Linked DNA regions of Homo sapiens: region 2 is linked to region 1. The links come from fine-mapping of genetic effects on gene expression. A gene starts in region 1. The other region holds a variant in brackets. All regions are shown on one strand. Distances are between the middles of the regions. Region 1 holds the start of C1orf56 (chromosome 1 open reading frame 56). Region 2 holds the start of LINC02988 (long intergenic non-protein coding RNA 2988).

What was found.
Region 2: its variant is fine-mapped to the expression of C1orf56 in sun-exposed skin (GTEx, PIP 0.97).

What each region holds. Positions count from the first base shown.
Region 1 is chr1:151,040,369-151,052,420 of GRCh38, reverse strand. C1orf56 (chromosome 1 open reading frame 56) reads right to left here and starts at 4,670. Exons shown (of 2, transcript NM_017860.5): 1 at 3,569-4,670; 2 at 1,001-1,983. The coding sequence starts at 4,573. The coding sequence ends at 1,963. BNIPL (BCL2 interacting protein like) reads right to left here. Exons shown (of 10, transcript NM_138278.4): 5 at 9,283-9,465; 6 at 8,987-9,089; 7 at 8,694-8,825; 8 at 6,538-6,624; 9 at 6,256-6,354; 10 at 4,701-5,770. The coding sequence ends at 5,734. It overlaps CDC42SE1 (CDC42 small effector 1), which reads left to right. Exons shown (of 5, transcript NM_020239.4): 5 at 1-1,436. RefSeq lists enhancers at 3,773-4,012, 4,293-4,342.
Region 2 is chr1:150,151,242-150,163,293 of GRCh38, reverse strand. PLEKHO1 (pleckstrin homology domain containing O1) reads right to left here. Exons shown (of 6, transcript NM_016274.6): 3 at 7,088-7,228; 4 at 6,279-6,383; 5 at 5,808-5,909; 6 at 3,229-4,475. The coding sequence ends at 3,771. LINC02988 (long intergenic non-protein coding RNA 2988) reads right to left here and starts at 2,566. Exons shown (of 4, transcript NR_135098.1): 1 at 2,484-2,566. RefSeq lists enhancers at 1-148, 2,497-2,806, 3,937-4,438 and silencers at 1,159-1,228, 1,817-1,886, 3,587-3,636. The variant G/A (reference allele first, on the strand shown) is at 6,045.

The DNA of each region.
Region 1 (12,052 bases):
GACTTCTGATCATTGAGGATGGTGAGATAAATAGGTTGAAAACAATCATCTGTGAGTTTAGGAGTCTTAAGATCCTCACAGCACGGGAGCAGGGAGAGGCTCTAGAACAAGGTTTCACAACCGAGATGCCTTTGACATTTTGGGCTGAAGTGTTCTTTGTAAGGAAAACCTGTTTCCTATTTTGTGCATTACAGGATATTTAGCAGCAACCCTGGCCCACTCTAGTTATGACAACCAAAAATGTCTCTATACATTGCCAGATTTCTCCTAGGGGGCAAAATCGCCTCCATTTGAGAACCACAACTCTAAAGTCAAGATATTTTTCTCTGAAGTGATTTCTGCTTGGCACGCTACCCTCATCATCTTACTCATCTTAAGCCCGAGCCATGGATCAACTAGGAGCCCATATAAATGAGGCTCAGTAGGGCTGCACATAATCTCCAAACAATTCTTTATTCAGTGTTTTGCTTGTGTTTGCATGTTGCTATGATGGACAGGTCCCCCTCCTCCATTCTTGCCCTCTGGAGAAGTGGTTCCTGCAGTGTAGAGATATGAACAGGGTATGGTAGGATTGGGGAAAGGGGAGAGAGAAGCAGTAGATACACTCCTTATCCTCCCCAAATTTTAAGCTCTATTTCTGTGCCCTAGTCCTAGACACACATTAGACTCAGGGAGTTTTGTCTGAAGACCAGGTCCCACTGCCCCCTGGCTGAAGAGTCTGCTTTAAATGGGAAAACAACGTAGGAGCAGGGGTTTTTAGGCACTTTCAGTATTCTCAGGTGTTCTTCGTTCTGGCCCTTCCAGGGTAATTAGGAAGGCAGAACAAGACAGATGAGCTCCTGCCTGCTCTGAGACAAGAAGGGTGGGGTCTCATTAGCTTTGCAACAGGAAACATCCTGTTTTATGGTAGTGGGGTCAGGAATGTAGGAACTGGTATCCATTCTGCCAATTCCACCACCCATTCAGTTTGCTTATCCCTACAGAACAGTGACTGAGGTTCTTTTTTTTTTTTTTTTTTTTTTTTTTTCAAATTTCCATGTATTTTCTGCCATTTTTCAGGGTCTAAGATTGGTCATACATTCCCAATTTACTCTCAGTTCCAGTCAAGCTGGTTGCTCTGAAAGTAACCCAGCTTGTTGCTCTAAAATACCTCAGTAGCCTGAGTGTTATACTAGAGATCTAAAGGGTTAACAGGATAGGGTGGAAAGGTTAGAGACTCCTAGAAATCTCTGGTCACCGTGATCTTCGGCCTCATTCTAATACCTGTTCTTTGGACAGTCTTTTTCCTTTGGTGCTCTCTTGCCTTTAGCTACCTTCTCTAATATGTATGCTACCATCACTAATAAAGTGATGGGAATGGGTTTGAGAGTCGTAATTTATATTAAAAAGTTGTTGGACTTTTAAATACATTTTTTCAAATAAAAAATTAAGCAAAATAGTTGCACAGTAATCATTGCAGGTGTGTGTTGGATTAAAGGATGGATATAGCTAATGAAGATAACTCCTCGAAAGTGGCTGAGATGGAATTTTGTACCAACATTGCCCTTTTGAGGAGAGAGGGCCAAGCATGAAGGCAAGAAGACCACTGTCATCTTTCAAGGGCTCAACTCCTTGTTCTTCCTACTCCCTTTTCTTAGCGTTTATTTGAGATTTTTCAAGCCTGTAAAAGAAGTACTTGTTTTAAAACAATGTTGGAAATGAGGAAAATGAGCAATATCAACATTTTATCCTGAGGGACAGGGAGTAGAAAACAAGCCAGAGGCTGCTAGTTACATAGTTCAGTCTTAGGGATGAAGGGATTTATGTCTCTCCTCCCTCAGGTACCTCTGTAAAGAAACACAAGACCAAACAATGTGTTTTCCAGTTTTGTTTTTCTGTACTAAAAATATCTAGTGGGTGCTAGGATTGAAAGGGCAAGAGAGGTTGAGATACTGACATCTCCTCATGTGGATGAAGTGGCCATTACCTCTGGTTTCTGTCTATCTGCGTAAGAAAAAAAAATAGAGAAAAAGGGAAATTACAACCACATCTATATTCTTTTCCCTTCCTTGCTTCATCTCCCCCTCCCACAAACCCATATTCCCTCAACCCTACTGCCCACCCCTTACTTATTTTTGTATGCAATAATGGTATTGGACACACAAGGAGAAAAACAGAAACAAGCAAAATGACCAAGTGTAAGCTTTATTACCTTTCCCTCCTCAAAGTCCTATCATCCGTATCAATTGAGACTACCTTATCAAGTCAATCAGAACCTTTGCTAATTCTGGGAAAAGCAGAGGACTATCCTTCCTTGTCCTGGAAGGACAGTACTCCCAAATGGTAGTGGTGAAGAGAGTGGGCACTGGTGTCAAACCTGGTTTAAATCTCGTGGCTCTGCCACTTACTAGCTTTGTAAACCTCAGTTTCTTCATCTGAAAAGCAGGGATAATAATACCTCATAGGATGTGAGGATCGATTCAGGTAAAGTGCACATAGTAAGACCTCAAATTTTGGCACTTGTTGCTGTTAAGCTGTATTAGGTCAAAACTATTAATTGATTAAGATCCTTCATATCTGTTAATTATCTGTGCATCAAAAAGACTTTATGGGCCGGGCACAGTGGCTCATGTCTGTAATCCCAGAATTCTGGAAGGCCAAGGTGGGCAGATCCTTGAGCTCAGGAGTTGGAGACCAGCCTGGGCAACATAGCGAGATCTTGTTAGCCAGGCATGGTGGTGCACGTCTGTAGTCCCAGCTATTCAGCAGGCTAAGGTGGGAGGATTGCTTGAGCCCAGAAGATGGAGGGTGCAGTGAGTTGTGACTGCGCCACCACACTCCAGCCTGAGTGATGAGAGACCCTGTCTCGAAAAAAAAGTCTTATGGTCAGGGGCACAGTAGCTCATGCCTGTAATCCCAGCACTTTGGAAGGCTGAGGCAGGAGAATTGCTTGAGCCCAGGAGTTTAAGACCAGCCTGGGCAACATAGCGAGATCTTGTCTGTGAAAAAAACAGAGAATTTCCAAGACCAGGCATGGTGGCTCATGCCTATAATCCCAGCACTTTGGGAGGCCGAGGCGGGTGGATCACTTGAGGTCAGGAGTTCTAGACCAGCCTGGCCAACATGGTAAAATGCTGTCTCTTCTAAAAAAAAAAAAAAAATTAGCCGGGCATGGTGGTGGGTGCCTGTAATCCCAGCTACTCAAGAGGCTGAGGCAGGAGAATTGTTTGAACCTGGGAGGCAGAGGTTGCAGTGAGCCAGGATCACGCCATTGCACTCCAGCCTCGGCAATAAGAGTGAAACTCTTGTCTTGAAAAAAAAAAATATTTCCAATCTTAACTATTTGGTCAATAATCACCTAATGAGCAGTAAGACATTTTACCTAATGACCAACCAGTAGTTGCTCAATAAATAATAGGTGGAATCAATGGCTAACAATGTGAATAACCAATGCATGTTATGAATCAATAACCAGGTAAGTCAGTAACAGTTCATGTAAGCAACACTGGCTGGCTTAGCAACTGGGTTTTAGATACCAGGACTTTTCAGATCCGTCAACAAAGACCCTGGCTCATCACCAAACACTTACTGGTTGCATCTCTGTGAACACTGAAGAGAGGCTATTCCAAATATCCTCCAGGCCAATCCTGACCCGTTTCCAAAAAGCCAGGGCTGGGCAGGGGCTGGCGGGTGGCAGGCTGGGACTGCTTCTGAGGTGGATGGTGGGGAAGGGGGTAGTGGTGGTCCTGGTACTGGTGGTGCTCTGAGAGGCACAGTTGGTGTCAGTACAGAGACTTGTGTCCAGGGGGCACTCTTCCCGAAGTCGGTTGCAGGGACATTGTTGATAGGTGCAAGGCTTGTGCTCCGTGCGGAGCTGGCTCAGCGCCCCAACTCGAAGGCGCCCGGAAAGGCCGTGCAGCTTCCCAGACCGGCTCCGGCTCATGGTGCCCGACTTGCAGTGGCAGTGCCACGGGCCCCAGGGCATCAGCACCAGCCGCAGATCCTCAGGAGATGGCATGGCTGTGGGTGAGGGTGACGGCCACCGGCTCGGGGTAGACCCAGGTGTGGACCACTGGCTCAGGGTGGCCTGCGAGCCTGGCAGGTCCTCAGTAGACCTCCCGGGGGAGCGCGGCAGGCTTGAAGTCAGCCTGATTTCAGGCTCCTGACTATTGGCTATAAACCTCGTGCTGGAACTCCCCGCTGTATTGGGAGTCGCACTGGGAAGCTCTCTGCTGGTGCTATCCTTTCCGGCATTAATCACAACCCCCTCTTCTGAAGACCCATCCTCCTCGTTAATGGCGGACGACCGGCTAAAGCCGGTGGACACCGTGGCGGCCAAGAGCTCGGCAGCCGCTGGTCCAGCCAGGCGGTCGGCGTCGGCCATGGCATCATTCTCGTCCTCTAGGATTATCCTTGTCTTCCGGGGAAGACCAGTCCGGGCGGTGCTCCGGTAGCTGCGGGTCATGGGGCCCCCAAAGCGTAAACTGACCCGCTGCATTTCGGTCGGAGTCTGGGTCAGGCCTTGGGCCCCCGCCGCCCGGGGACCCAGATTCAGCAGCAGGACCCACAGCAGCGCGCCGGCGGCGGGGACCATGGGGCTGGGCTCTTGGGGTTGGGAGGGTGGCCAGTGAGGCAAGCCCTGCCTCCTACCTTCGCTCCCTCCCTTCCGCTGTAGACCCACCGGGTCGTTTGAACCGAGGCCCGCGGGGAAGGGGGTGGGGTTCGACGCGCAGGCGCGCTCGCGCGGGCCGCGCGGGGTGCTCCTAAGGAACCTCTGCGGCAAGAACTCTGCCAGAACCGAAGGTTTGGGATGCAAGGGGTGGTGAAAGAGTCGTTCACTTCTTTGGAGCAGAGCTTAAATGTCTCATCGCAGTTTATTAGCCTCTACAGTTCTAAATTTACTAAAGAGGGCAAAAATACAGGTTTTGAAAGCACTCCTTCCCAGGCTCACAGGCAGCAGACATGACTTAGAAGGAAAAAGGGCATACAGCGGTTCTTCAAGATTTAATGAGCTGACTCTCCTGGCTCCCAGCAGGCAGGCTGGCTGTCAGGTAAGCCTCTTCCATCCAAGGTGGAAGGATCACAGTCCCTCCAGTTAGACAGGAGGAAAATTAGGACCCAAAAAGATGAAGTTATTTGCCCAAGGTTCTACAGCTAAAGTAGGATTAAAACCCAGAGCTCTGGCCGAGCGCGGTGGCTCACACCTGTAATCTCGGCACTTTGGGAGGCCGAGGCGGGCAGATCACGAGGTCAAGAGATCGAGACCATCCTGGCCAACATGGTGAAACCCCGTCTCTACTAAAAATACAAAACAATTAGCTGGGCGTGGTGGCGTGCGCCGGTAGTCTCAGCTACTCGCTGAGGCTGAGGCAGAAGAATGGCTTGAACCGGGAGGCGGAGGTTGCAGTGAGCCGAGATCGCACCACTGCACTCCAGCCTGGCGACAGAGCGAGACTCCGTCTCAAAAAACAAAAAACAAAAAAACCCAGAGCTCTGCATATCCCATACAAAATGACCCTACATTCAGCCTTCCGTCCCAGCAACTGGAATGAAAGTCACCCAGCAGATCAGTTTCCCAGCCTCAAAGCCCTGCTGAAAGTAGGGTCATGCAAAGGACAAAATCCCACTGAGAAGTGAAGATCCGGTGGTACTGAGGTTGGGGATAAGATGATTTACAAAACAGTTCAGATGTTTCAGGGATTCAGGTGTAGGCAGATCACTAACTGGTTCTAAGGCCTTTTATCCAGTCCTGTGCTATGTCCCTCCTGAGCCATGGAGATCCCGGTCCAGCCTAGGAGAGGGAGAGGGGGAGGAGAGAAGTGGTTCAGGGGGTAGGACTTGGGTTTTATTTTCTGGTTTGGGGAGAGAAGCCAGGTGAATTGGAAGAGCTAGATGATTGGGTTGAGTCATCATTTAGCACTTTTGCTCCCTAACACCCTCTCCCCCACTGGATATCATCTGTTCACTGCCAACACATCTCTTCCTAATTTCTAGGGCCAGTCTGAATCTCCTCTGCACTGTGATTATTCCTTTATTCCTTATTGCCTCTGCACTTATATGTATAGGTTTTTTTTTTTTTTCATTTATTCTTGTTGGATGCAGTAGTGTCCTTCATTTCTTCTCTGGGTGTGTGCAGTTTCCCCATATACATTAAAGCACCCGAAAACAGGGCCCTCTAGCTTTTCGTTCTTTTGTATGTCCCCCAAGGCATTAAAAAAGTAGAGATTGGCTTTACACATCCCACCCCAAGGCTTTATTCTTAAGTGTGAAACTCACTGTCTGACAGCTTCAGGGATGTGGACTTGATCCAGGGATATGAGTTGGGCCAGCTCCCCCAGGCTGTCCAGAAAACGGATTTTTCGTGTGAATTTGGAACTGAAAAGAGAGAATAAATCAACTGTGTTTTGTATTGGGAGAAGGGTTCCCAAAAATCCTTGCAAAGAAAAATGTAGAAGTAGAGTGGTTAAGGCTAGAAAGAATCAAGGTGGAGAAAGATCTTAATCTTGATTTTGAAAATGGGGGGAAGGAGAAAGGAGTCCTTGTTCCTAGAACTAGTACCTGATGAAGGGCCGAAGCAGTGCCAGAAATGCTTTCACATACCATGTAGCATGGACAACCACCAGGGCTCGCAGGTTTTTCCGTAGCCTGAAAAACAACATGAGATCATCCTATTTCTTCTTCCACCTTTATGTGTGAAGATCACGTGGAACTGTTTTCTGTACTGTAACTTCCTTCATTCACTTCTCTAGTTTCTAGATTTATCTGGTACTTGGGTCTAATCCCCATTCCGTCAGCTGTAATCTCAGCTCCACCCATCTTATTTAGCCCTCCATGATCCTCATTTTTAAAAAAACTCTCAAGATTTTTTTTTTTTTTTTTTTTTGAGACGGAGTCTCACTCTGTCGCCTGGGCTGGAGTGTAGTGGCACTATCTCAGCTCCCTGTAAGCTCTGCTTCCCGGGTTCATGCCATTCTCCTGCCTCAGCCTCCTGAGTAGCTGGGACTACAGGCGCCCGCCACCGTGCCCGGCTAATTTTTTGTATTTTTAGTAGAGACGGGGTTTCACCATGGTCTCGATCTCCTGACCTCGTGATCTGCCCGCCTCGGCCTCCCAAAGTGCTGGGATTACAGGTGTGAGCCATCGCGCCCGGATTTTTTTTTTTTTTTTTTTTTTTTGAGATGGAATCTCACTCTGTCGCCAGGCTGGAGTCAGTGGCTCGATCTCGGCTCACTGCAACCCTCCACCTCCCGGGTTCAAGTGATTCTCCTGCCTCAGCCTCCCGAGTAGCTGGGATTATAGGCACATGCCACCATGCCCAGCTAATTTTTGTATTTTTTTAGTAGAGATAATGACTTGTCACCATGTTGGCCAGGCTGGTCTTGAACTCCTGACCTTGTGATCCGCCCACCTCGGCCTTCCAAAGTGCTGGGATTACAGACGTGAGCCACCGCGCCCGACCACCTGGTCTTTTTCTGCTCCATTTCCATCTTGTGCTCTACCCTCGCGTAAGTTCCTTTTGCATGCTTCTACATCGCTCCATGACCAAGATTACTTATAAAACTCTAGGTGGAAGAAGACCAGCAAGGACGAAAAAAGGAAAGGGGGCAAGAAGAGAAATGTGAGCAAATGGAGATGGGGGAACCAAAAGGGGAAAAAAAAAAAACCTGAGAAGGAAAAGAAGACACAGGGCCAGGCACAGTGGCTCACACCTGTAATCCCAGCACTTTGGGAGGCCAAAGCAGGCAGATCACCTGAGCTCAGGAGTTCAAGACTGGCCTGAGAAACATGGCAAAACCCTGTCTCTAACAACAACAACAAAAATACAAAAATTAGCTAGGCATGGTGGTGGCGCATGCCTGTACTCCCAGCTACTTGGAAGGCTGAGGTGGGAGGATGGCTTGAGCCAGGGAGGGAGAGGCTGCAGCGAGCCAAGATCTTACCACTGCACTGCAGCCTGGTGACAGAGAAGACACATAGGTCAGTGATGAAGGCAGAGAAGAAGATAATGGAGGTGTGGAAAGGGAAATAAATGGCAAGACTGAGAGAAGAGTGCTTTCTGTGTGCCAGGCAATATGCCACACTAATTTACTCGATTTTCACAAATACCCAGTGGCAAAAGTATAACTATTGCCATTTTACAGATAAAGAAGCTGAAGTGGCCGGGTGCAGTGGCTCATGCCTATAATCTCAGCATTTTGGGAGGTGGAGGCAGGCAGATCACTTGAGCTCAGGAGTTTGAGACCAGCCTGGGCAAAATGGTGAAACTCCATCTCTACAAAAAATACAAAAGTTAGCTGGGCATGGTGGCCCATGCCTGTAGTCCCAGCTACTTGGGAGGCTGAGGTGGGAGGATCGCTTGAGCCTGGCAGGCAGAGGTGGCAGTGAGCCGAGATCGTGCCACTGCACTCCAGTCTGGATGACACAGCCAGATCCTGTCTCAAAAAAAACAAAAAAACAAAAAAACTGAAGCTGAAGCCCAGAGAGGTTAAGTGACTTGTCCAAAGCCATACAGCTAGTAAACAGTAATGTGGTAACAGCAGGATTTGAAGCTAGATTTCCTTGACTCCAAGAGAAGACAGAAGACAAAAGAGCTGGGAAAGGAACGTAAAAGGACAAAGAAAATAGGAAAAGGACTAAATGGAAGAAGAAATAATAGAAAGATGGGGAAAAAAAGATGAGATAGAGAGTTGTAGCCCTCTCATCCCAGGTCTCACCGCCGATCCAGGGTACGGTAACACTGACGTATCCAGCTTAGAGGTGGAACTTGGGCCCTGCTTGTGCCTCCACTCAAATGAACAAGCAGGTAATTTTCAGCTACTAGCAGCTCCAGAGTTCCCACCATATACCTGGGGGGATGAAATTGCAGGGAAGGTATGTGTTAGGGGCTTCAGAGAGTGAGAGGAACATTACTGTAGACTCTCCCATCAGCTACTGATCTTTGAAGGAGTTCTTTTTTACTTTTCCCTCCCTAACACTGCCCTGTAGCCCTTCAGGCCTTCCACCTCACCTAAACAAGTGTTCCATGACATAGGTGTAGTTGGGGATGCTGCTTCTGGGTAGATAACAGGAAGCAAAAAGGATGACAGCATTGAGGCCATCACCGTGGTAACCTGGAGAGTGTAAGGGGAAAATTCATTTGGTCAACAAATATGTATTGACAGATAGTATATCTGTTTAAGTTGAGGGACTCTGAGGGTCTCTGGAAGTTCCAGGATAGATTTTGGATCCAATGACTGAGTCTCCAGCTTAGGCATTTTATTAAGAAGCCATAGCTCTTAACACCTGCATTATGCTAGCCATTACCTCCATGAGACAGGACTTTCTTATAGGGCTCAATGACAGTCATGTCTACGCGCTGCTCCCGTGGTCCCATTCGGAACACCCTCCAGTGATGTCCATCTTCTCCAGTCACATCCCACATACAACCTCGGCCCAGCCTTTCAGCTGTCTCACTGGTGCCCAGACCCTCTGCCCGGGGTAGTTCATCTAAAAGAGAGGGATGGGGAAGGATCAACAAGGCAGATTTCCTACCTTCAGTTTTTTGTAACTTCCTCAGATTCCTAGTTTGTTACTCTAATCTGTCATTACTCAATTTTTTCCTTGATTCTTTTTTTTTTTCCTTTTTTTTGAGACAGAGTCTCACTCTGTCACCCAGGCTGGAGTGCAGTGGTGGGATCTCAGCTCACTGCAACCTCCACTTCCTGGGCTCAAGCGATTCTCTAGCTTCAGGCTCCCATGTAGCTGGAACTACAGGCATGCACCACCATGCCCAGCTAATTTTTGTATTTTTTGTAGAAACAGGGTTTTGCCGTGTTGCCTAGGCTGGTCTTGAACTCCTGAGTTCAAAGCAATCAGTCCACCTTGGCCTCCCAAAATGCTGGGATTAGAGGCATGAGCTACCACACCTAGCCTCTAACCCAGGCTTCTGTTTTGACTCTAGCCGTATCCCTAAATGCCTAGAGTGTACATCTTCACTTCGTGTCTGCTTGTCATCAACAAATCACCAGATTCAAAAGGGAACTCAAGGTTGTGCTCAATGGCTCGTGCCTGTAATCCCAGCACTTTGGGAGGCCAAGGCAGGAAGATTGCTTGAAGCCAGGAGTTTGAGACCAGCCTGGGCAACAAAGTGAGACCTCATCTTTACAAAAAATTTAAAAAATAATAAAATTACAAATTACAAAACAATAACAACAACAACAAAAAAATGGAACTCAAAATCATTCTTTTCTGCTTTGGGAGGCCAAGGTGGGAAGATCACTCATGCCCAGGAGTTCAAGGCTGCAGTGAACTATGATCATACCACTGCACTCTAGCCTGGGTGACAGAGTGAGACTTTGTCTCTAAAAAAATAATAATAATACAGCCTGGGCAACAAGAGTGAGACTCTGTCTCAAAAATAATAATAATAATAATAAATAAATTATTCTTCTTATTCTCCCTCATATTTCCTATTTCCTTTTTTTTTCTGAGATGGAGTCTTGCTCTGTTGCCCAGGCTGGAGTGCAGTGGTGCGATCTTGGCTCACTGCAACCTCCGCCTCCCAGGTTCAAGTGATTCTCCTGCCTCAGCCTCCCGAGTAGCTGGTACTACAGGTGCACGCCCCCATGTGTGGCGAATTTTTTGTATTTTTAGTAGAGACGAGGTTTTGCCATGTTGGCCAGGCTTGTCTCAAACTCCTGACCTCAGGTGATCTACCTGCCTTGGCATCCCAAAGTGCTAGGATTACAGGCATGAGCCACCGTGCCCAGCCATATTTCCTGTATTGATGAATGACTGAATCCATGTAGCTGCCTGAATGAGAAAATTATATTATTATTATTGTTGTTGTTGTTGTTTTCTTTTAGAGACAGGGACTCACTCTGCTATCCAAGCTGGAGTACAGTGGCTCGACCTTTGCTCACTGCAGCTTTGACCTCCTGGGCTCAAGTGATACTCCCACCCCAGCTTCCCAAGTAGCTAGGGCTATGGGTACACATCAGCATGCCTGGCTAGTGAGAAAACTGCATGTCATGTGAAACTCTTTCTTCTCTATCAGCCCTGAAATGAACTGGACTCCAGATTGTGATCCATCTATCTCTATGATATTCTTTCATCATCCTTTCCACTACTGCTATCCTGGTTTGGGTTCTTAGTATTTCTCACCTGGCCTTGGTACTAGCCTCCTTACTGCTTTCCCTGCCTCTAGTCTGTTTTTTTCCAATAGACCCTCTATACCACTGCTAGAGCAAGCTTTCCTTTCTTCTCTACCTTTTTTTTTGAGACAGGGTCTCACTCTGTCTTCCAGGCTGGAGTGGAGTGGCATGATCTTGGCTCACTACAACCTCTACTTCCCAGGCTCAGGTGATCCTCCCACCTCAGCCTCCCAAGTAGCTGGGACTACAGGTCTGTGCCACAAAGCCCAGCCAATTTAAAAAAAATTTTTTTTGTAGAAATAGGGTTTCACTTTGTTGCCCAGGCTGGTCCCAACTCCTGGGCTCAGATGATCTGCCCTCCTCAGCCTCCCAAAGTGTTGGGATTACAGGAATGAGCCACTGCACCCAGCCTCTTTAGCTTTTTATTCAAATGATAATATATTATACCCACCATTCTGCATGATCTTTCCATAGCAATAGAAAGAGCTGCTTCTTCTTTTTTTTTTTTTTTTTTGAGATGGAGTTTTGCTCTTGTCGCCCAGGCTGGAGTGCAGTGACGCAATCTCGGCTCACCGCAACCTCCACCTCACCGGTTCAAGCGATTCTCCTGCCTCAGCCTCCCAAGTAGCTGGGATTACAGGTGTGTGCCACCATACCCAGCTAATTTTGTATTTTTAGTAGAGATGGGCTTTCTCCATGTTGCTCAGGCTGGTCTTGAACTCCTGACCTCAGGTGATCCACCTGCCTCAGCCTCCCAAAGTGCTGGGATTACAGGCGTGAGCCACCGCTCCCAGCCTAAGAACTGCTTCATTTTAAAAAATAGTTGCATAGCCGAGTACAGTGGCTCATGCCTGTAATCCCAACACTTTGGGAGACTGAGGCAGGAGGATTGCTTGAGGCCAGGAGTTCAAGACCAGCCTGGGCAACATAGCAAGACCCTG
Region 2 (12,052 bases), 890 kb after region 1:
TAAGAAAGCAGAAAGAGAAAGGAACCCAGCGTAGAGAAGGGAGTGACGAAGTGGGGGGTGGGGGCAGTAGCTGAGCTTGAGGGTTGCAGAAGTGGGCTGGGACTGCTTGCCTGTGAGGTTTAGATAGAAGAGAGATTCTTAGAGACTCATTTCCTGGGAGAATGAGGCAAATTTATTACTGGCAGAGGGGTTGGGAGAGCGGCTGGGGAAGGAGGCGAGAGCTGTTTCCCCAGGGACAGAGCTCTAGGCTCAGAACCGCATAGTATGTGAGGACCAGGGCAGGAGTTAGAGAAATTTGCACCTTTCTTTTCTCCCTGGTAAACCTATGCTGTGGAGATAGAAGGAAATCAACTCATCAGCGTTCCAGGCCAACACCCCAGACATTCTTCCTAATGGAGGGAGCCGGGACTGCAGTTCCTTTATCCCTCCTCAGGCCCCTGGCTAACAACCTGATGGGGAAGGACAGGAAAAGTTGAGGAAAGTGTCACTGAAATGAGAATTAAGATTTCGTTCTTTACCTGCCTCTACCCCTCACCCCCTCTCAACTCTGTGTCCTGGGTTCCACCCCTTACCCCGTCTCCCCATCCTAGGGCCTCCGGAGGGCACTTCCCTTTGCTTCATCTGTGTAAGAAAAGAAGGGAGCAGAGCGGTTGGGAGTGGAAAGGGAGGGAGAATAAGTGCACCCTGAAAGTGTCTGGGGGCAGCTGTGTGCTGAGAAAGTTGCCCCACACAGCTACTGAGCCAGCCCATTTGCCACGCATCACAGTTACCGGGGGCACGGAAGGGAAATATTGCAGGCAGAGGGGCTAAAATGATGAAGTGAGGGAGGAGAAGCACTGGGAGGAAGGGAAATGAACGTAAGCACCTTCCCATCCTCCTGTCACAGTGCCCAGGTTCAATACAAATGCTTCAACAGAACTCATGCCAGCAGCCTACCACAAGGGTGCACCTTAAGCGATTTTTCTAGTGGGAAGCCTGGTTCCATGCTAAGCTCTAAAGTTCTTGAAGACCAGGGACCATGCTTTCATCCCTTCTGGCTCTCTCCTCTGAAGAGAGAGGTCCAGCACAGCCTGTGGCCTGGATCTAGCTAAGTGACAGTGACCCCACCCCGGTGGCCTCATTCACACAGTGCTCCTTCCAACTGAGCTAGCGGCTCACTGCCCAGAGTCAAACCAGTAACAGTAGCTGCAGTGGTCACTTTCTGACTGACAGGCATTTTCCATATTGTCCTCACCCATCCAATAGCTCTGCAGCTTGCAGATGAAAAAAACTGATACTCGGAAAGCATGTGCCTTGCCCAGAGCCTCATAATCAAGAAGTAACAGAGTTAGAATTTGAATCCAGATCCATCTGGTTTCAAAGCTGGGCTCATTTCACCACCCTAGGGCCTGGATGTTCCAGTAACTGCTGGAGAACTGGAAGCTGTTGGTTTTAGAGCCTGAAGCCCAGGAGCACAGTGCCCAGCTCCTCTCTTACTGTTGTGAGGTCCCCGATCTTTCTTTTCTGCTTCTTTCACCTGTCATTCTCCTCTCTAGTGTCTCCCTCCATCTTCTGGCTCCCCTGGGAGCCACAGATAATTGACATGTTGGGATACACATGTCATTTGTGCTTTTGTCTTTTTTCATTATGTGGGAGCAACAAGGAAGAAAAAAAGAAAAGGAAAAATGCTGGTAAAATACAAAGATAGAGACTTGTAAAAAGAAAGCATAATTCTACCTTAGACTTCAATACTTGTGACAATGGATGGCTCTGCTGACCATGCTTAGGGCTGTGGAGAGTGCAGCTATTTGAAGGACAGGAAGTCTGGAAGCCTGGGTTCTCACCTCATACCCCAAGAGACCATAGAATGACATGAAGGTGGCACTCTTGCACACTTTCCCTCACTCAACTGGGATACACATTCTTCAAGGAAGAGGCTAGGTAACTACAGTCTAGAGCTGGGGACAATCTCCATGACAGAGTGGCAAGGGACTAGAGAGAGCAAGAATTCCTCTGCCCTAGGGATGGTTTAACAGCAGTGATAAGGTCCAGAGAAGAGCTGTGAAGGAAAGAGATGATTTCTGGAAAGGGGACAGAGGCCCCCATTTTGCTTACATGGGTTGTAGGAGTGACGTTAGAGCAGAAGAATGCGGACTGAAGAATCTGTTTCTCCCACAGGTTTTTCCCCCGCTTCCTCCTATCCCATCTTCCTATAACATCGGGGCAGCGTCATGGCCAGGTCTACATGTAACTTGGCCCCGTTTCCTCCCCCTCCTCCCCTTACCTCTAGTGAAGCCCCGCTGCTCTTGGAGGATCAAGCAGCTAGCAAGGCACACTTCAATGTGGCTTTTAACCCCTCATTTACTTGATTCATGAGACTCTGTCCCCTTCTTTCCCAAAATCAAATTATTCCCTTCATAGCTCTTCTGGGGACCTCACCGTTACTAAACCTCATCTCACACACTTCCAAGGAAAGAGTGAACAGTGAGTTGTGTGGGACCTACCACAGACAAGAATGTTGGGAAGCCTGGCAACTTCAGAGGTGGCTGGGAGGGTGGTGGCGTGGGCATCCAGATGCTTTTCTAAAGTGGGGACTTGCTTAGTGATGGAAGAGGTTTGAGGAAGGAGAGGGGGAGGCTACAGGAAACCTCAGCATGGCTGAAAGAGGAACTTGGACAGATGTTTGGTTTTCCCCTTCATCCTACCCAGCTTGCATCACACACCAGTTTCATTCTTAGTTCAGTTCTTCTGTGGGGTCTGTCTCTAGTTCCCCTGTGCTAGGGCCCTGAATCAAATAATGAAACTAGTCTCATCCACTCAAGGTTGGATTTTTTTTTTTTTTTTGAGACGGAGTTTCGCTCTTGTTGCCCAGGCTGGAGTGCAATGGCACAATCTTGGCTTGCTGCAACCTCTGCCTCCCAGGTTCAAGTGATTCTCCTGCCTCAGCCTCCCGCATAGCTGGGATTACAGGCGCCCACCACCATGCCTGGCTAATTTTTTGTATTTTCGGTAGAGACTGGGTTTCATCATGTCGGTCAGGCTGGTCTCAAACTTCTGACCTCAGGTGATCCACCCGCCTTGGCCTCCCAAAGTGCTGGGATTACAGGCGTGAGCCACTGCGCCCGACAAGGGTGGATCTTTGAGTCAAGGTTGGGAAGGGTGTGGAAGATGAAGGGAAGAAACACCTCATGTAAGAAAATCCAGGCAGCTCGATCTCAATGAGAGACTGCTAGGAATGAGAAGCCAGTGTCTGGCTGGGGAGATTTTAATTCCACAAATCCTCCTCAGGGCTGGGATAAATTTCACTTCCATGTGCACGGACAGGTGACACTGGCCTCCACATCCCTACAACTAGAGTTGGGCAGCTGAAACTTCACCCTCAAACTGAAGGCCTGGGGTGGGACATAACAGAAAACATCCTCATCCCCCTCCCGCTCTAAGCTTAGAAGCCCACTGTATCCTTGGGAGCAGCAGTGGACTCCCTGTGCCGTCTTGGGGGCGGGCGGTGTGTGGAGTGGTCAGACTGTGTCTTTACCGTGCCTTCTCTCTCTCTGGCTGGGTAAAAACTTCCTGCTACTGCTGCGGGGTCACTTCCTCAAACCTGAGGGGCATACGAGGGGCATATGGAAAGTAGGTGGGGCAATAAGGGTTGTAGTGGGGTCAGGCATCAGCAAGAGCAATGAGTTCATTTTTGTTTTCTTTTTTTGATTGAGGTAAATAAAAAAGCTTTATCCAGCAACACGGAGATAAGAGTCTGTCCAACCCGACAAGTTCCAGACCCCACCCTGCCCTCACATCAGGCTCTTCCGGTACTGACTGTGCGGGGTGGTCTGTCTGAGGTGGGAGTCCGGGGTCTGCAGGTCCATCTGTCTGTACAGGTCTCTCAGCTCCCTGACCTCCTGCAGCACCCTCTTTGCCTGGCTCCAATTCGATGATGCCTCTCCCAGCAGCCGTTCCGTCTCCAGCAGCAGCTGCTCTGACTCAGAATCCGGCGGAGACCGAGGGGGGTCCTTGGCCTTTCGCTTCCCATCTCCCAGTCCCTGAACCTCTGCCAGAAGCTCCTGAGTCTCCTCCAGTTTCCTTGCTACCAGGTCCTGGATCCGGGACAGCTGCCCCGGGTTGGGGAGGGCAGGGGTTGGGGGTTCCTCAGCCCGCAGCTGGAGGGTGCGGGCAGAGGCAGCATCCCGCTGAGATAGGATCTCCTCCAGGGAGGCGCAGCGGCCTTTCTCTGTGGGCGTCAACTTCTTGGGTGCCTGGGGGGTGTAGGTGGCCCCTTTGTCTGTTTTTTCCCAAGGTCGGGAGAGACTGCTTGCCCGGTCTGCGGAGGGCTGGATGCGGTCTGAGTCCGCTCTCCGCCGGCTCCCTGCCAGCTGGGCCACAGACTTGTCCAGGTCAACCCGAAAGCTCTCAGCACAAGAGGTTGGTTCCTCAGGGGAAGGGTCTTCCTCTTGGATCAAGTCCAAGGTCAGCATCCCATCCGAGGTAGAGGTGGAAGCCTGTGGAGGAAGGGGGGAATGAGTGGGGAACCTGTCATCAGGAGGGATTTTCGGAATGACTGCCTAAAAGATGCAAGCTGTGGTCATTTTCCTCTACAAGCCTTCCTTGAATGAGAAGTACTTTTTTTTAGAGACAGAGTCTTGCTCTGTCACCCAGGCTGGAGTGCAGTGGCACGATTTGAGCTCACTGCAAGCTCCGCCTCCCGGGTTCACGCCATTCTCCTGCCTCAGCCTCCCGAGTAGCTGGGATTACATGCGTGCACCACCACGCCCAGCTCTTTTTTTTTGTATTTTTAGCAGAGGCAGGGTTTCACCATGTTGGCCATGGCTGGTCTCAAACTCCTGACCTCAAGTGATACACCGTCTCAGCCTCCCAAAGTACTGGGATTACAGGTGTGAGCCCCCCTGCCTGGCAAAGCCCTCTGCTCTTGACTGAACCCTCCTACTGAATGTGCTGTTTCTTATTCCTTTGATAGTGACTTGAATGTTTCTTCTTCTGTGATTTAGTTTGTTACTTGTTTCCTGTATTCTCCACTCTACCATAAGCTTCCTGAGGGGCGCCCTCTTCCTTGGTATTGTGGACTCTCAGCAATTAAACTGCATCTGATGCACACAGGATGCTCCCCATGGCACGACTGTCCTCCTCCATCTGCATCCTCTGAGTCCCACACTTCAGCCCCCTTGCCTTATAATAAAATTTGTTCTCTTATTTCCAGAATACTAAAAATGATGAGTATTCAATACCAAATATGTTGTTTTAGTCATTCCTCACAGCAGCCCTTCAAGGCAGGCATGATTACTGCCTCATTTTACAGTTGGAGACATGCAACTTCAGGGAACCACACAGGTAGCTGATTACAGTGAGGTTCCAACTCAGGTTCTAACTCCAAAGCCTGTGTTCTCTGCATTATACCTGCCTGCCTCTCTCTCTGAAGACTTAAGAGCTCAGAGGCATGAAAGAAACTAGCACGTTGTATGTTTCAGGAGTTCATTGTGATCCTTTCTCCTCCAAACACCCGCGGTACTACATGTTGTTACCCATCAAGACAGCCACCATACAGTAGCTAATTTTTCATTTTCCTGTGGGTATAACTCATTTTCTCCGAAAGAGGGTAACATTACTGGGAGCTGGGACTTTTGAACTCCTAATGGGCGCTGAATAAAACCTTTTGATTTAGATCTGGCAGAGGCATTGGGTGGAAGGACTTCCCTCGCCTTTGATCTTGGCATCAAGGAGGCCTCCCGCAAATGCCTCTGGTGGCATACAGTTCTGTCTGAGATGGACTGACACAGAATTGGCCCTTTGGCAATGTTTATTACAGTCTTACATACCACAGCCATTAGGTGTCCCCTTGTTGGGGGGCGGCGGGAGTGCTGGATTTTTGCCCTGTCTCGAGTGGGATGGGCAAGATAGCTGTCCTCCTCAACGGTGACCTGAAGAGATGTACTGTGAATCATGAGTGCTCTTCAGCGACTCGCTGTCCCAACCCAGCATCCCGAGGCCTGAACATGTGCCCACTCCATTCACTGCTTCTGAATGGGCAAGGGGATTTACTGGACACGAAGGGG[G/A]CTCTTTAAGCTGACCCAAGGCTGGCTCCCCCATCATGAAGCGGGGAAGAGGAGGTGTCAGATGAGACTTGGAGAGAAGGTAGAAAGAGATCAGGGCTTTTAAAAGGGTGGTAAAGAAGTAGAGCTGGTGGAGGAGCGAGTAAACGGGGCCTGCACAATCCTCCCCCTTCAGTGGGTCACAGCTGTTCCCTCTGCCCCAGCGTTCCTCCCTCTCCCCACAGTGAGCCCCCTGACCTCATCCAAGATACGGTTCTTGGCTCGGGTGATGGCAGAGTTGAGGGCATTGATCCACGATTCCTTCTCTTCTGGACTCACTGCCAGGAAGATCAGGTTGGGTGCCTGTGAGGGGAAGATTCCTGTTTCAGCCAGGGTTTTAGAGGTGGTGCCTCACCTTGACAATGAAGAAATAAGAGATTATAATCTCACTTTCTTAGACCTAGCTCCAGGAAGGAGAGATATTCTGCTTCCAGAGTCATCCATAACTTAAGGAAACCCAGCTTCTATTCCTGCAAAATGCATAGCTAGGAGGTTGTTTTAGAAATGACCAAGGAGGAGCTAAGAAGGATACTGAATATTAGTATGGTATTAGAGATAATTAGAGGAAGTCTGATGAAGGATAGGTATTAAAATACAAATCTTTCAATGTTTGAAGAAATAGAATGTGACAGGAATAACTTCCCTGGGTTCCCTCAGACAAGATGAATTAGATTCAGAACTTCAACCACCTATCAGGGTACAAGGACAGGGATTTTCTTCTAAGGGATGTAAATATGCACATGTGTGGATGTGTGTGTATAAGACAGAGAAAAATAAAGAGATATATAGAGAGATGATCTTTGTGGCTGAACAGGTTAAAGGGTGGCCTGCCTGGAAAGAAGGAAATGGCTACAATATTCTCAGGTGAAATGATAAAAGCCAGCAGGAGAGCAATTCAGGGAATCTGAACCAAGATTGCTGAGAGAGAAACTGAGGGGAAGGAGTTCTCCCCTGCCCCCTCCAACCCTGTCCATGTTCCAGCAGCCAAGGTGGCAGGAGAAACATACCGTGTTACCGGGCTGTTTGGAGTGGGCAAGAGTAAACTTGCTATGATTTTTCTTGCTCCTGCTCTTGGACTTCCGGAGCTCTTCACACTTCTCATAGTCACTCAGGTCAAATACCTCTTGAATATTTTTCTCATCTTTTACCTAGGGGAGGGTTGGGGTGAGGTGAGGAGGATAAAATTATTTAGCCCCTCCACCCAGACTGTTAGTTTAGATCATCTTGGGAAACAGAGGAAGCCTGAGGAGAGGGAGGCACGCCAGGAGAGGAGAGGGCCGTCTGCCCAAAGCCTACAAGGTCCTCACATCGAGGAGGACGCTAGGGCAGCTCCAAGTCTTGAATGTTAAGGTGTGTTTCTGTTTAAACCCCTTCTCTTCACTCTCCTTAGCCAGGCTGCCATTTCCAGAGTCCCACTATGCCTCTCTTCACCAACCGCCCCACTCTTTTCCTTAAGGACACAGCTTACATGTTCTAAAAAGGCTCACGTCCTTAAAGGGACATGGTAGATGGTTGATCCATTGCCCTCAGTAAGACAGACCTGTATGGCCCTTGATGGTCCACAGAAAGAAGATCAAGGCAGGGCCAGTTATCGGGGTGTCTGGAGGGAACGAGGGGCGGTCTCTGGCCTCCCCACTCACATGTGTGCAGTATAGCTCTCCCACCCCACCTCGCTTCCTTCTCTGGTATGTACAATTATAGAGACTCATCTTCCTTGTTCATTTCAGGAGCATCGCCACCACAGGACGGCAGCCCCGTGTTCAGTTTGCTGAATTTGTCCAGAGAAGCTGAAAACTACAATTACAGTTCCTACCCTTTCCTCCTCCCTCTAAGGTACTGTGACAATCCAAACTAACTCCTCCAGACCCCCTATCTCTAGGCAAGAATGCACTTAGACTCTCCCTGGGAGACTACACTTTAGACTTGGAAAAAAGTGACTTCTGTGACTTCTTGCCATTATTCCAGTTTGAGTGCCTGGGCCCCCTTTACTGCCAGGAAGCTCTTCCTCCTATCTAAACTTAGCCCTCCCTGCTATAGTCTCCGTCCCGCACTCTGGTTCCACCTTTAGCAGGTTTTAAGCAACATTTAGCTCTTAGCACTCCTGCTGAACGTCTCATCGAGGCCGCATTCCTAGTGACATTCTCCAACCCCAACTAGCCTTTTCTGAGCACTGCAAAGCAGCTCTAGGAACATTTCTTCGCAGGTTCATCTGAAACTGACCACAATGTTTTCTCTTTTCCCCTAAGGTGGTGTTCCTACAACTCTGGGACTCTGAAGCAGTGGCTTATGGATTTGTTTTGGCTAGCAAGGACCAAAGTTACAGAGAGGAGACTTAGTTACAAGTCCAGACCGTGCAGTCTGTCCACCCTCCGTGGCTTGAGCCCAGGGTTGGAACACCTCAGGAAAAACCTGGTCACGTTTTCCTGGAATGAGAATTAAAAGCACCAGCACTTGTCTCATTAAAACTAAACAAACAGATAAAAGTAGCCTCACGTCTTCCTTGGATGACATCTACCCACCCTGACTGAAATTATTTTCCAAAACAGTCCCCAACTTCCCAAGTTCTGAAATAGGACTCGTGTGCATGGAGGTGAACTCATCTATCCTCCTGGTTCCTGGAAACCTGGAAGTGGGGAAGTGGTTCTCCCTTCCATTACCCAGACCATCTACAGTCTTGTATCTGCCCATCCTTCTGAACTGCTGCTGGACCTGGAGGCTGATGACAGATGAGGACAGATGTCAACATGGCCCCATTCAGGTGAGTGACGCCTCATACATCTACCTCCATTTGTTTCAGCAAGGCTTGGCTCCTCCAGGGCCTCCCACTTTCCAGGGTTCCCTGGCTTTGGGCTGGAAAGTGGCCAGAGGCCTTGAATGATTACGGGTGGAAGTAGGACAAGGTGCTGGCAAGGGGTGTCCAAGAGCAATTCCCAGAAACACGGGACAGGGATACAAGATGATGCATCATCCCTCCTCTCCCCCTCCTTCTCCAGAGCTGAGACTATCAGCAGAGCCCAGAAACCGTGGAGAGGAAAGTGTTGGGTGTGTGAATGTAGCCAGGGGAAGAGAGTTAACTTACTATGTTTTCCTTAGGGGAAGGGAAGGAAAGGGAGTTATTCTACCTTGCATACAGACTGATTAGGAGCTCTGGGGAGCAGGAGACACTGATAGAGGTTAGCCCTTGGTGGAGAGGGTGGGAGATGGGGTGAGGCAAGCAGTAGGACAAGTATATTCCAGTGCCTGGGAAGATGGACAAAGCCAAGCAGCCTTGTTCTCCACCATATTGTTTTTTTTTTCCCCACATATCTAATTCCCAGAGTCTCATTTATAACTACCCATCTTCCAAATTAACCCTTCCTTTCCCCTGATTCTTCGTCCTTGACTATAGAAAGGGATTTTTCCCACGCCTGTCCAAAGAGTTGCCCCGAATCCAATTTCCTCCACCATGAGGTCTTCCTAAGGTCTAGCTTCTGTTCTTACACATCAGCCTGTGATCATAAGGTGCTCCAGCCCTCTTTGAGAGAGGATGCCCTTTGAGAAGGAAGAAAATGATTACTATCGAACACAGAAGAAATTCTACGGCAGAGGTGGTTGTGGGAGACCCTGCCTTTAAGAGAGGAAATAACAAAAGAGACTGGTGAAAATTCTGGGAGATAGGGTTAGAAATTTTCTTGCATTAACAGTAAATGATATAGATTATACTCTGCCTTAAAAAAAAAAATCTTGGTCAGGGACTGTGGCTCACGCCTATAATCCCAGAATTTCAGGAGGTTGAGGCAGGAGGATCACTTGAAGCCAGGAATTTGAGACCAGCCTGGGAAACATAGTGAGACCCCATGTCTACAAAAAATAAAAAAAATTAGCTGGGTGTGGTGGTGCATGCCTGTAGTCCCAGCTACTCCGGAGGCTGAGGTGGGAGGATTGCTTAAGCCCGGGAGGTCAAGGCAGCAGTGAGCTACGATTGTGACACTGCACTCCAGCGTGGGCGACAGAGTGAGACCCTGTCTCTAAAAAACAAAACAAAACAGAACACCGTGTCTTGATTCTATTGGCCCTGGAGCTTTTCACAAGTGGGCAAAATAAAGCCCAGAGTACTCTGTCAATTTCACTTTTTAACCAGGCCCACTGTAGCATTGAAACTGGCTCTAAAAAAGCACAGTATCAATATGCCTAGTCCCTCTTTCCTGTGCCCTTCCCAGCAGGAGACAGCTGGCTCCATGACCAGTCAGATGGTCCTGACTCATAGGACACCAGATATCCTAGGCTGAGGTCATTCCATCCTTTCCTCTGTCTCTGTACCTAAAAGCAAGGATCAACTACGCTTTTGCCCCCAGACTCTGCTCTTTGGGCAAATACAAACAAGCAATGGATGTCTTATTCCTCTTACCCTTTCACTATTATGTTTTTCTCTTTGATGTGTAGGAAGTTCTCCCTGATTCGTAACTAGAGTTTCCTGCAATTAAGAAGTTCGGGGAAGACAGGAGATACACTTTGACACTTGTTTTTTTTTTTTTTTTTTTTTTTTAATTTAGAAAGCCAGAAAATTGTGGAGAAAACTTTCTGGAGGATTTGTGATTGGGCAGAGGTAACTCTTAAAAATAAATCCTCCTGGCCAGGCACGGTTGGCTCACACCTGTAATCCCAGCACTTTGGGAGGCTGAGGCGGGTGGTTCACTTGAGGCCAGGAGTTTTGAGAGCAGCCTGGTCAACAACGCGAAACACTGTCTCTACAAAAAATACAAAAACTAGCCAGACATGGTGGCACCCACCTGTAGTCCCAGCTACTCCAAGGATGAGGTGGGAGGATCACTTGAGCCTGGGAGGTGGAAGCTGAAGTGAGCTGTGATTGAGCCACTGCATTCCTGCCTGGATGACAGACCAAGAAAAGTGCCCTCACCTCACTCCTAAGACTTTCCATCACCAACTTGCTAGTTTTGTGTAAACAGCTAGGTTTCAATACCCTTAAGAGGGATCTCTTTGGCTGTGGCACAGCTTAGTTCTTCCCTAGATGCCTCAGTAGATGTTCTTTTAGATGAGTACTTTGTCTCAGGGTGTGTGTGTGTATGTTTCAATACCATAAAAGGTTTTATTTACCTAAATATAATCTACTGAATAAGGATGTCTACTGCAGAAAGCAGAAGAGGTTAGAACTCAGGGAGGACTTCCCAGTTAGCCCTGGGTGAGGGAACACAGAATACCTCCCGTGAGGGCGGGAGGAAGGGCCACTCTAACCGGTACACAGGACAGTCTTCCAGGCTATACTGACTGCCTTTGGACAGTCACAGAGGCAGGGAATGGAATGACTTCTAACCACTGTAGGGGCAATTCTGATTTCTCCACATTAGTACACGTTATTGATCCCAAGACTTAGGGAAAAAAGGGAGATGGGTCTGGATTCAATTATCATAGCTCAGGTCTTGACACAGTGTAGACTGTGGTTTTCATGGTTAACTACACAGCCAAAGCTATCCAAAGACATACAGGGGTTCTTAACTCCATTTCTCTCCCTTCTGATACAAATGGAGGGGTGGGCAGGAAGTGGGTAGAAAATGGGTTCCTTGCCTTTTTTAAATGGGGTGGGGGTGGGGAACAGAGAGCATACTGGTTAGGGACACTGGCTTCAACGAAAATAACTGCCACTCACACACCCGAGGTCACAGGGGCCTGACGGCGGGGTGCGTGTTTTCTGTGATTCAGGGCGGATGCGCCACGGACAGGACCTGTGCACGCTCCTGCCACAGACAGGAAAGGGGAGGCTGGCTGGGTTAAGGTGGGGGGACAGGAAGGGGTGGCGAATAGGCTAAACTGTTTCAGCAGAAATAGAAAAGAAATCCTATATGCAGGAGGCCAGGTTAGGGTGGGAGGCAGCAAGGGACACTTAGAACTTCTGGGGCATCTTGGGAGGGGCTTATCGTTGTTAGAAAGGTATTTGCAAACAAAAAAACACTGAGTAAGCGGCCAACTCAACTTCT